Linked DNA regions of Homo sapiens: region 1 is linked to region 2. Evidence: fine-mapped expression QTL. Tissue or cell type: whole blood. Region 2 holds a variant in brackets; the other region holds the start of a gene. All regions are shown on one strand. Distances are between the middles of the regions.

The links. PIP is the estimated chance that this variant, and not a neighbour inherited with it, causes the effect.
Region 1: CRAT starts here. The variant in region 2 is fine-mapped to the expression of CRAT in whole blood (INTERVAL, PIP above 0.99).

Annotation. Positions count from the first base shown.
Region 1 is chr9:129,108,906-129,113,905 of GRCh38, forward strand. It overlaps CRAT (carnitine O-acetyltransferase), which reads right to left and starts at 1,888. Exons shown (of 14, transcript NM_000755.5): 1 at 1,578-1,888. The coding sequence starts at 1,604. It overlaps PTPA (protein phosphatase 2 phosphatase activator), which reads left to right and starts at 2,510. Exons shown (of 10, transcript NM_178000.3): 1 at 2,510-2,726. The coding sequence starts at 2,696. RefSeq lists silencers at 1,644-2,083, 2,774-2,823 and enhancers at 2,494-2,773, 2,706-3,246.
Region 2 is chr9:129,128,325-129,136,104 of GRCh38, forward strand. It overlaps PTPA (protein phosphatase 2 phosphatase activator), which reads left to right. Exons shown (of 10, transcript NM_178000.3): 4 at 661-786; 5 at 3,198-3,315; 6 at 6,471-6,570. Among named protein-coding and RNA genes, the nearest start is that of PTPA, 21 kb to the left of the region's middle. RefSeq lists enhancers at 3,206-3,760, 4,854-5,354 and a silencer at 3,452-3,653. The variant C/G (reference allele first, on the strand shown) is at 4,205.

The sequences.
Region 1 (5,000 bases), 21 kb before region 2:
GGAAAGAGAAGACAAGAGCCAAGATTCAGCGGGAGGCAGGTGGCAGTGGCGATGGCTGTGGTGGAATCGGGGGTTGTGGCAGTGGCAGGGGAAGCTCCTGGACTCTAGAAGCTGCTCCACCCTCCCGAGCTCCCAGAAGTAGAGGAATGGGGAGCAGGTGAGAGGGCTAGTGGGGGGGCATTCCAGTAGAAGGGAACCTGGAAAGTTCTTTCCTTTCTTCTCTGCATGGGCTCAGTGCCAGGGAGTCAGGACAAAAGGTAATAAAAAATCCACCTGTCAGAATCTGCGAAGATCGTTTTGATGAGGGAAAACTTGGCTGGAGGACAGAGACTGCCTGGCCGCTGAGGTTACACCACAGCCCTGGGATCGGTCCTGAAATTAGGGTTGGTGCAAGGGAGCAGACACCAGGAAAAGGCCATCAGTGGATGGGACAGCCAGAAGCCCTGCCTATTTCCTGTTTCTCTCCAGGACTCCTGGGACCCATCTGAGCCATCCCTCTACGAACACTCATTTTTTCCTGAGCTGTGGCTCATTCAGCTAGGGTCCAAGAGCGGAGGACTTTTGGTATGAAAAATAAACCAAAGGACACTGGGATTGGGCTGGATTTGAATGAGCAGGTCCAGGGGACTCTGGGCAAGTCCCTCCTTGCCTCAGTTTCCCTGCAGGAAGGTAACCAGTCCAGTCGGATGGTCCTGGAGGATGATCTAGAGGCTGTTTGTGGGATGGATGCAGCTTGGGAGACAGTGACAAGGGTGCGGTGGAGGCTCAGGGTGTTGCAACACCTAAAAGAGCCTCTAGGCCTGAGCCTGGATGCACCCTCCGCCCTCTGGCCCCGTAGTGTGTGTCTGAGACAGAGTGAGACACCAGCAACATATGCTTGGATCAGGGACGGAAGGGACTGAAATTAGGCTAGCATCCGGGCTGCTCACCGGGGAGGACTGAGGGGTAGATATAGCCAGGGTGGGGAAGGGGGCTAGAGGGGAGGATATAGCCAGGGTGGGGAAGGGGGCTGGAGGGAAGGATACAGCCAGGGTGGGGAAGGGGGCTGGAGGGGAGGGAGACCATGGGGCTGCCACCTGCCAGTTCTGAGGCCTTTCTAGCTTGATGCCTCCGCGTGTTTCTCTGGCCACACACAATTCCCCAGGGACCGTCTGATAAACCAAAGGAGTGTGACCAACTGGACAGGGTCGGAGGAGTGGCTCTGGCCTAAGCGTGCGACGGGTGTGTCAATCGGAGAATAACTGGGAGAGTGAGCTAGGGTCTGGATGCTCCTGGTCTCTCTCCCCTACCGGCCTGTCTCTGGGTCTAAGGGTGGGGGTGCTAACTGAAGCCGGGGTCCCCCTTGTCTTTCCTGGGTCGTTGGAACTGAATGCTCCAGGACGTGGGTTTAATCCCGCTTCTGACCTTGCGCCCCAATCTCCTGCTCTGCCAAACCTGGGACGCCCGCCTGACCCCACCCCATCAGCTGGAGGCCGGGTCGAACAGCGGCCGCAGGACGCGGTCTCCGTTCCCGGACGCAACCGCACGGCCCGCCCAGGCCGTCCAGGGCCCTCAGGCCCGGGATCCGCCGCACTCACCACGGTCCTGGCAGCGAAGGCTAACATCTTCGCTGCCCGTCCGCGGACACGCAGTCCGCTCCGCCCCACACACCGGGCAAAGTCCGCGCCGCCGCCGCCGCGGCTGGGGTCGGTGGGTCCTTGCTAGAGCCTTCGGGCCAAGGTCGCTGAGTTACAGCCGCCAGCCGGTAGAGGCAGCCCCGCGCCCACCCTCTGGGCCGAGCGGGCTGCGGGAAGGCACCCGGGGAGGAGGACTCGCGAGGCGGGGCCTGGGCCGGTAGCGGGCCCCGGGCGGGCAACGGTGCCCGGGAGGTTGGCTGTGGGGCGGGGACGGGGCATCGATGGGGCGGAGTCTCCTTGAGGAGGGACAGGAGGGGCGGGGACGGAGGGGCGGGGCGTCGCCCGGTAGCGGGTCGCAGTAGGCTGGCTGCGAGTCGGGGGCGGGACCACGGCGGGCGGGGACAGAGGGGCAGGGCCGAGGGCGAGTCATTGAGACCTGTGGAGGAGGAAGGAGGAGGTCACCGTCCAGCTGTCTCTCCCCTGTCCCCACATGTCTTCTAAGCTGTTGGAGGTAGTGGTGTGCACCTTTCCAACTCCGTCTGGTGTCCTTGAGCCTAACTCTTAGAGTGATAGGAAAACACAACCATGTTGACCGGGGAATGTCCTCTAATATTCCTTGGGTTAGGGTCAGTACCACCCACAAAGATGACAGGTGGTACTCCGGGACAGGAGACTGTCCCGGAAAAACATGGCTGAGCACAACCCAAACTTGACGCCCCGCACAATCGTGGCAGTCGCGGCGCCCGACGTTCGGGCGGCCGTGAGCGGTCCTAGCGCTTGGCGGCCGTTGGCGCGCATGCGCCCCGCGCGCCCCGCACTGACATGGCCGTCGCCCGGTTCCGCGCGTCCGCCGCGCGCCGGCCGTTAATAGGCTTGCTCCCTGAGCGCCCCGCACCGACATGGCGGCCGTCTTCGCTGTGGTGACTTTAACTCTCGGTTTTCGGTTATAGCCGGCCGGCGCTCACTTGTCTTCAGGAAGCTCGGAGCCTTTGGTGGAGCCGGGGAGAGGAAGGGTGGGTGCAAGAGTGAAAGGCGAGAGGGGACTGCAAGCATCCGGGTCGGCTCCTGGCCGGAGCAAGATGGCTGAGGGCGAGCGGCAGCCGCCGCCAGGTAAGGCCGGCGGGGCCAGGCCGGGCCGGGGTCGGGTAGGGTGGGGGCGGTGCCAGGTGTGGGAGGCTCAGGAGGGCGAGAGTCATGACACGGAGGAACTGGAGGGGCAAAAGCTGAGGGGCCCCGAGGAGGGACTGAGTTGAATGGCCTTAGGGGAGAGGTGGGTGGTGGGGCGCCGCTGGGGAGGGAACCAGGGGCTGCAAAGGGGTGGTGATTGGGGCGCAACTCTGGGTTTTGTGGGAGTCCAGGCTGCCCGAATGCTGGGTGGGCAGCGCCGTGGTCATAAGGGGGCCTTTTGCATCTCTGGGCAGCGCGTGCTTAAGTAAGCTGCTGACTCGGTGGGGAAGCTGCCAGGGAGGGGGGCGAAAGTGATTCCGGAGGCTGCCGTCTTTATTAGTCGCTGCTTAGGGGATGGGGTGGTGCTCCGTGGGCCTGCGCCCGCCTCGCCTCCAGTTTCGGCCTCCGCGTCCTGCTCACCCCTCATCCTCCTACTCTCTGGTTCCAGTGCCTGAGAATTTATTGAGGGAAACTGCCCGTGGTGTCTAAATCCCTAATTTTAAAAGGCTGGTTGTGCAAGGAGGTTAGTCTCTCCGGCATCTCCTTCGGTAACTCTTATTTACCTTGTAGCCTCTTTTTAGTTCATCTTAAATAACTGGGATGGAGGTGCTACGGAAGGATCTTAGAGACCCTTTTTGTGCAGAAGGAGAAGGCTGTTTGCCGACCTACCTTGAACTAAGAAGGACTGGCCATAGATAACTTTTACATTCCCGACAGAGGCAAATAGGTTGGCCGACCAAACACAGCTAATGTTTTGAAAGCATTTGATATTCTTGCTATCCTGTCTCCAATGTTGGGGTCCCTGGGAAGGTCTCAGGAGGGAGAAATGTTGAAAATCAGAAAAGGCATCCCCTCCATGCCCCACAAAAGAGGTGAACAAAGAGCTGGGTTCCGTTTCTTAGGACATTCAAAACCAGACATTTATTTTGTACAAAACCTCTGGGTGTGTGCCCTTAGAACAAGGATGTCCAGGCCAGGCGCGGTGGCTCATGCCCGTAATCCCAGCACTTTGGGAGGCCGAGGCGGGCTGATCACCTGAGGTCGGGAGTTCGAGACCAGCCTGACCAACATGGAGAAACTCCGTCTCTTCTAAAAATACAAAATTAGCCGGGCGTGGTGACACACGCCCGTAATCCCAACTACTAGGGAGGATGAGGCAGGAGAATCGCTTGAACCTGGGAAGCAGAGGTTGCGGTGAGCTGAGATCGCGGCATTGCACTCCAGCCTGGACAACAAGAGTGAAACTCCGTCACCCCCCAAAAAAAAAACCGGGGTGTCCACTCTTTTGGCTTCTCTAAGCCACATTGGAAGCAGAATTGTCTTGGGTCACACATAAAATACACTAACACTAACGATGGCTGATGAGCTAAAAAAAAAGTCGCAAAAAAAAAAATCTCATAATGGTTTTGTGTTTCTTTTTTTTGAGACAGTGTCTCACTCTGTCCCCCAGGCTGAAGTGCAGTGGCATGGTCTCGGCTGACTGCACCCTCTGCCTCCCGGGTTCAAGCGATTCTCCTGCCTCAGCCTCCTGAGTAGCTGGGACTACAGGTGCGCCACCATGCCTGGCTAATTTTTGTATTTTTAATAGGGACAGGGTTTCACCATATTGGCCAGGCTGGTCTCGAACTCCTGACCTCGTGATCCTCCTGCCTCGGCCTTCCAAAGTGCTGGGATTACAGGCATGAGCCACCGTGCCTGGCCTATGTTTTAAGAAAGTTTACAAATTTGTGTCCGGCTACATTCAAAGCTGTCCTGGGCTGTGGGTTGAACAAGCTAGCCTTAGAAGTTCTGGTGATGACTCCGGGCACAGTGGCTCACACCTGTAATCCCAGCACTTTGGGAGGCCGACACAGGCGGATCACTTGAGGTCAGGAGTTCGAGACCAGCCATGGCCAACATGGCAAAACCCCGTCTGTATTCAAAATACAAAAATTAGCTGGGTGTGGTGGCACACGTCTGTAATCGCAGCTACTCGGGAGGCTGAGGCAGGAGAATCACTTGAACCCAGGAGGCGGAGGTTGCAGTGAGCCGAGATTGCTCCACTGCACTCCAGCCACTGCACCCCAGCCTGGGCGAGAGAGCTAGACTCCATCTCAAAAAAGAAAAAGTTCTGGTAAGGACATCAGGAGATAGGAGATATAAGGCAACCACTGTTATCAGTGAGATGAATGTGTCCCTGAAGATGAGTGGGGGTGGGGAGTGGGAGGAGAGAGAACC
Region 2 (7,780 bases):
CGGGAGTTTGAGACCAGCCTGACTAACATGGAGAAACCCCATCTCTACTAGAAGTACAAAAATTAGCTGGGCGTGGTGGTGTGCGCCTTTAGTCCCAGCTACTTGGGAGGCTGAGGCAGGAGAATCGCTTGAACCTGGGAGGCAAAGGTTGCAGTGAGCCGAGATTGCACCACTGCACTCCAGCCTGGGCAACAAGAGCGAAACTCTGTCTCAAAAAAAAAAAAAAAAAGTTTAGTGTATTTCTGGGTGGCAGGATTACTGGTCATTTTCATTTTCTTCTGTTTATATTTCTATTTTTTATGATGAGTAGGTATTGCATACTGAACAAAAGGCTTCCATAAAGTCTTTTTAAAAAGATGTCAGGGCTGGAGTTAGCTTCTCTATAGCAGCAGCCCATGGGTAGGCTGCCTACAGAAACCAGGTGCTAAAGCCACCCCGTCCCTGTCCCATCAGCCTAGTGTGCTTCCCTCTCTGGAAAGCCTATCATGCTCTCCTGACCCTCCTTCATATTCAGAACAGTGGGGAAGAAAGAGGGATGGGGGAGAGTTCCCAGTAGGGGCCATGCCAAGGGGTCATTGTCTGGCAGCAGTGGACTTCCCTCTGTGGCTAAGCGGGAGCCACTTGCTCTGTAGCTTGGACCCCTCTATTTTGCCTCCACAGGCCATTGAGAAACTAGTCGCTCTTCTCAACACGCTGGACAGGTGGATTGATGAGACTCCTCCAGTGGACCAGCCCTCTCGGTTTGGGAATAAGGCATACAGGACCTGGTATGCCAAACTTGATGAGGTGAGGCTGCCACAGGACAGGCCAGGGACTGGGCTGGCAGTGAGGGTGGTTCTGGCACCAGTTGGGGAAGGGCCTGCATTGTATAGCGCTTCTAGGCATATACAAATCTCAGTTTGTTAAAATGTCAATTTCACTTAGCAAAATTACAAATGAGTTTATACTCTGCTTGGTCATCTTCTGGGAAACACGACTGTGCACATACGGCCCTCTGCACTACAAGGCTGTTTATTAAGTCACTGTATTACAGCAAACTGGAAATGTTCCAAGTATCCATCTGTAGGGGATTATTTAAATAAATTAGTCCATCAATATCATGGAGTACTGTGCAGCTATAAAAAGGAATTTTTTTTATTTTTTATTTTATCTTTTTTTTTTTTTAGACGGAGTCTCGCTGTGTTGCCCAGGCTGGAGTGCAGTGGCGCAGTCTTGGCTCACTGCAAGCTCCACCTCCTGGGTTCACGCCATTCTCCTGCCTCAGCCTTCCGAGTAGCTGGGACTACAGGCACCCACCACCACGCCCGGCTAATTTTTTGTATTTTTCGTAGAGACGGGGTTTCACCGTGTTAGCCAGGATGGTCTTGATCTCCTGACCTTGTGATCCGCCCATCTCGGCCTCCCAAAGTGCTGGGATTACAGGTGTGAGCCACCACGCTCGGCCCCAAAAAGGAATTTTTTTCATAGCTGGGCACGGTGGCTCATACATGTAATCTCAGAATTCGGGGAGGTTAAGGCGGGAGGATCACTTGAGCCCAGGAGTTTGTGAGTAGGTTGGGCAACATAGCAAGACCCCGTTACTGCAAAAAATAAGAAATGGTGGTGCACACCTTTGGTCCCAGCTGCTTGGGTGGCTGAAGCAGGAGAATGACTTGAGCTCTGGAGTTTGAGGCTGCAGTGAGCTATGATGGAGCCATTGCACACCCACTTGGAATGCTAGCTGCATACTCCATGGTGTGGATGGACTAGTCTATTGAACTGATCCTCTACTGATGTTTTTATTTTTGAATCTTACGAAGGTGTTACCTATTCAAAGCAAACAAAAATAAAAATGCAGGATCTCAGACCCTGTCTAGAAAAGCAGAGTCTACAGGTCTGGGTAGGGACTGGGAACCTGGATTTTTACTAGCTTTCCAGGAGATGGCTCATGCCAGTTGTCTACAACTGAGCTTAAGGAAATTTGGGTCCTAATTGCTCTGGCCCAATATTTTCACATAGAGCAGAGGGGAGGACTCAGGACCCAGTGAAGTGCTGTTCCCAAGAGACGCCCGGGCCTGCCTCTGGACTCTTAAGATGGTACATGATCTTTTTTTTTTTTTTTTCCTGTTGTTCAGGCTGGAGTGCAGTGGCATGATCTCAGCTCCCTGCAGCCTTGACCTCCTGGGCTCAAGCAATCGTCCTGCCTCAGCCTCCCAAGTTGCTGGGACTACAGCATGCGCCACCATGCTTGGCTAATTTTTGTGTTTTTAGTAGAGACGGGGTTTCATCATGTTGGCCAGGCTGATCTCGAAATCCTGGCCTCAGGTGATCCGCCCACCTTGGCCTCCTAAAGTGTTGGAATTACAGGTGTGAGCCACTGCTCCCAGCCTTAAGTTATATCTTAAAGCTGACAAATCATAGCTTTACAGCTTGATGGATTTTTACATGTTTTTACTCATGGACTCACCACTCATGCCAAGTTTTTTACCCATGGATTCACCACTCATGTCAAGCAATAGAACATTCTAGCTGGAGTGCTCCCCTTCCCAATTGATATCGCCCAGATTATTCTGATTTCTATTCCATAAATTGATTTTTTTCCATGTTTCTGAACTTCGTATAACTCTCTGGCTTCTTTTGCTCAATGTCATGTCTGAGATTCATCCATGTTTTCATGTCTAGCTATAGGTCTTTTTCTTTGCTGTGTAGTATTCTATTGTATGAATATACCACAATTTATTCATTTCACTGTTGATGGACATTTCCATTGCATTTCCACCTTTTGGCTACTCTAAACAGTGCTGTTGTGAACATTCTTCTGCACGTCTTTTGATGGCACATGACACCAGCTCTTGCTGACCTGAGAGTGTGAAGGAAGGTGGCCTGTGTGGGAATCATAGCACTGACCTTCCAGAGTCTCTGTGGGGCTCCAGTGAGTTACCACATGGGAGGGTTGAGGCTTTTTTCCAGATTCCTCCTGTTTTGCCCCTAGACTCCTGTGCCCTGGAAAAATCAGTTGATGATAAGTCGCCTGGGTAGTCTTCTGCTGTGGAAGAATAAATGCTGTCCCTCCCCTTCCTTCTGTGGCCTGTCAGAACAGGAACCAAGCTGGCCTGGCAAGGCAGTGTGGGCCCCCAGTCAGGTGCTGCCCCTGGGCACCTGCCCACTGGGATGCTGCTTAATATGCTGCCACCACTTTGTGTCTCTTGTGTTACCAGGAAGCAGAAAACTTGGTGGCCACAGTGGTCCCTACCCATCTGGCAGCTGCTGTGCCTGAGGTGGCTGTTTACCTAAAGGAGTCAGTGGGGAACTCCACGCGCATTGACTACGGCACAGGTATCTGCTGCTTGTGGGGCTCTGTACTTATCTAGCTTCACTGCTTTCTGTTTTGGGCTTCAGGTGGTCTCTGGGCCCTCTGAGCAAGTGAGAGCAATCAAGAATTCGCCAAGCACCTGCAACCTATTGGGGCCAGCTGGGGTTAGGGTGGCTTCACCGGCAGGGAGGGCGTAGGCATGCAGGGAGGCCCGGATGCTGCAGCTCTGCTGTGGTCCACCAGGGGGAGCTGATGCCCCGTGCATGGTGCTTGCGCAGCGCTGCTTTCTGTTCTTGTGAAAATGGTCTCTGAGCTCCTCATCATCACCAAAATAATTATTAATTGAGCACTTACTGTGTGTCAAGGCAGCAGCTTACTGAAGCTTTGAGAAATGGGAACGCTTCTTGGTGGCCTTTGCAGTGTCGTGGCACACCCTCTCCCTTGAACCCCTTGTCTCTTAGCCACATTCTCTGTGCTATTGGGCTGTTTGGATCTGTGGTCCATGTAAGCCAAGGGACCTGGACTTTGAGGAGAGGGAGTGTGTGGACACTTTAAAAGGGAAGTGTAGACAGGTGCAGTGGTGCGTGCCTGTAATCCTAGCACTTTTGGAGGCTGAGGGGGAGGATTGCCTGAGCTCAGGAGTTTAAGACCAGCCTAGGCAACGTAGCAAGACTCCATCTCTTTTTTAAAAATTTATTTTAAGTTATTTTTATTTATATATTTATTTTTTTGAGACAGGGTCTTGCTTTGTCACCCGGGCTGCAGTGCAGTGATGTGATCTTGGCCCACTGCAGCCTTGACCTCCCGGGCCCAAGTGATCCTCTCACCTCTGCATCTCCCCACTCCCCAGTACCTGGGACTACAGGTGTGCACCACCAGCCTGGCAATTTATTTATTTATTTGAGACAGAGT[C/G]TCACTCTGTTGCCCAGGCTGGAGTGCAGTGGCATGATCTTGGCTCACTGCAACCTCCACCTCCTGGGTTCAAGCGATTATTCTGCTGGGACTATAGGCACACACCACCATACCTGGCTAATTTTAGTGTTTTTGGTAGAGACAGGGTTTCACCATGTTGGCCAGGCTGGTCTCGAACTCCTGACCTCTGGTGAGGTCACTTCTCCACCCACCTTGGCCTCCCAAAGTGCTGGGACTGGGATTACAGGCGTGAGCCACTGCGCCCAGCTGATTGTTTTGTATTTTTTGTAGAGATGGGGTTTTGCCATGTTGCCTGGGCTGGTCTTGAACTCCTGAGCTCAAGCTGTTCTCCCACCTCAGCCTCCCAAAGTGCTCAGATTACAGGTGCAAGCCACCATGCTGAGACCCCATCTCTCAAAAATATAAAAGGGAGGTGTTCTCTAGGTCAGGGCATGGCCTGTGGAGCCACCATGCTGAGACCCCATCTCTCAAAAATATAGAAGGGAGGCATTCTCTGTGTCAGGGCACGGCCTGTCGAGCCACCATGCTGAGACCCCATCTCTCAAAAATAGAGAAGGGAGGCGTTCTCTAGGTCAGGGCCTGGCCTGTGCAGCTAAGGAGGACCTCTGCTTTGGTGAGGGCCCGCCTTCCTTCCCTGAGGCAGGCAGATGGGGCACCGCTCAGCCCTCCCCTTGTCTGGGGAATGTGATCCACAGGAGGGAGCCCCAGCCACAGAGGCAGGCCCTGGAGAAGGGCCCTCTTGGACCGGGTGGGGCTTTGACTAAGACCAGCAGGAAAAGATCAAAGAGGGAAGACTGGCCAGGTCAGCAGGGGTTGGTGCCCCAGCTGCATGTGAACCCCTGAACAATGGGAGCCTGGGCCCTGTCTGGTCATAATTGGAAACTGTGGCAGGGGAAGGAAACTGAGCTCACAAGCTTCCAGGCCCTGGAGGGGTCTTCGTCCTCCAGAGACAGGACAGAAGTATTCTCTGACACATTCTCTTCTCACCTCCCTCCAGATAGGTTTTGTGTGACATTGTGAACAATGGGATTCAATCACAGTCCAGTGAGTTGTTCCTACAGTGCAGACCATTCCTGTTTGATATGACTGGGAAAGGAAGGAGGATACTTTTTCACCCTGTAATCTGATCATGTGTTCCCTGCTTAGAAGCCTGCAGTGGCTCCCTATTGCTCTTAGGGTAAAGTCTGAGCTCTTTCCTATGGCCAAAAGGCCCATGTGACCTGTAGCCTCCTGTCATTACACGTTCTCCCTTGCTCTCACTGCCTTCGACATACTGGCCTCCTTAGTGTTCCTCAAACAGATCAAACTTTTTCTTGCCTCAAGGCCTGTGCACATGCTATTCCTTCTGGCTAGAATGCATTTCTTGCTTCCCTCACTCCCTTTGCCTTGCCAGCTCACATCTTTCAGATTTCAGATTAGATGTTACTTCCTTAGGGGAAACCTTGAACCCTTACGTCAGGGTCCTTCTGTGATATCCTCCAGTTAGTACCCTGTCTTTCTCCTTCAGAGCTGGAATCATAGTAGTGACTGTATATTTATAATGTCTGTTGTCCCTGATAGATCATAAACTTTCTGAGGGCAAGGACTTACTTGTCACTGTCTCCTAGTGCGTAACATGGACAGTGACTGCTTACATAGTAGGTGCTCAGTAAATATGGTGGAATTGCTGAGTGAGTTAAACCTACGTAATGAAATGTAAATGTCCAGCCCGGGTCTTTTACGAGTGGAATTATAGTACTGGTAGTTCTTTTTTTTTTTTTTTTTTTTTTTTTTTTGAGACAGTCTCACTTTGTCACCCAGGCTGGAGTGCAGTGGCCTTATCATGGCTCACTGCAGCCTCAACCTCCTGGGCTCAGGAGATCCTCCATCTCAGCCTCCTGAGTAGTTGGGACCACAGGCACATGCCACCATGTCTGGCTAATTTTTGTATTTTTTGTAGAGACAGGGTTTTGCCATGTTGGCCAGGCTGATCTCAAACTCCTGAGCTCAAGCAAGCTGCCTGCCTCAGCCTCCTGAAGTGCTGGGATTACAGGCATGAGCCACCATGCACGGCCAGTACTGGTATTATAGTTCTTGAAAGGAAAGGGCCTAGCAAGTCTTTCTGAATGGGGAAGAGGTCTCATTGTCTCCATGTTGACCACCCTCCTCAGAGGGGCACTTATCAATGATTCGGATTCTGGGAGACTAAAACAATCCCAGTCCTTTACCTGGACTACTGTCAACGCTGGTTGTTTTTCTCCTCCAGGGCATGAGGCAGCCTTCGCTGCTTTCCTCTGCTGTCTCTGCAAGATTGGGGTGCTCCGGGTGGATGACCAAATAGCTATTGTCTTCAAGGTGTTCAATCGGTGAGAGAAAGGACAGGAGGGTTGGAGGAGGGGGCGTGAGGGGCCATCTGTTTCCTCCTCAAACTGGGAAATGGGGTGCTCTAGGGTTCTCCTGAGTAGCTCATGGTTCTCTTGTCCTGTCCTAATCAAGCTCTGGCTGTGGATGGAGTGTCCAAGCCTTTTTTCCAACAGGTTCAAATTAACCTCCAAGTAAAAGCAAGTGAAAGAATTGTCACATAGGCCGGGCGCGGTGGCTCACGCCTGTAATCCCAGGACTTTGGGAGGCCCAGGCAGGCGGATCACGAGGTCAGGTGTTCGACACCAGCCTGGCCAACATGATGAAACCCCGTCTCTACTAAAAATACAAGAATTAGCTGGGCGTGGTGGCACTCGCCTGTAATTCCAGCTACTCAGGAGGCTGAGGCAGAAGAATTGCTTGAACCCAGGAGGCGGAGGTTGCAGTGAGCTGAGATCGTGCCACTGTACTCCAGCCTGGGTGACAGAGTGAGACTCTGTCTTAAAAAAAAAAAGAATTGTCACATAATGTCTGCCAGTATTGACACAGTGTTGACCATATGGAGGAAGAATTCTAAGCACTTTATGTATAACTCATTAATTCTAACAACAACCCTATGAAATAGCAACTGTTATTTCCATTTTACATATGAGGAAACTGAGGCACAGAGATATCCGGTGTCTTCACTGGGTTCACGCCAGCTGAACCCAGGTAGTCAGACTCTGACCTGCTGCCCCACACCACCCAAGCCAGTCGCTGGGCAGCACTGATGTGGATCAGTTACCCAGAGCTCTTAAAATCCCCATTGCGGGCCCCAGTCTAGCAGTGCTGCTGCAGCAGGCCTGTGACGGAGCCCAGGAGCAGTGCTCGATGCTTCACAGGTGGTTGATATGCAGCCTCTGATAATATAGAAGGTTGGAACCAGAAGAACCTAGGAGATAACCTGCTGGGACTTGTGTTAGCTTTCAGACAGGCCAACTGAGGCTGGAGAGGCTGAGGCCCTGCCCAGGGTTTTACAAGTTGTCAGGAGTTGATGGCACCAAAACCCACCTTCCTAATCAGTGATTTTTTATTTATTTATTTGTTTATTTTTTTTGAGACAGGGTCTTGCTCTGTCGCCCAGGCTGGAGTGCAGTGGAGAGATCTCGGCTCACTGCAAGCTCTGCCTCCTGGGTTCATGCCATTCTCCTGCCTCAGCCTCCAGAGTAGCTGGGA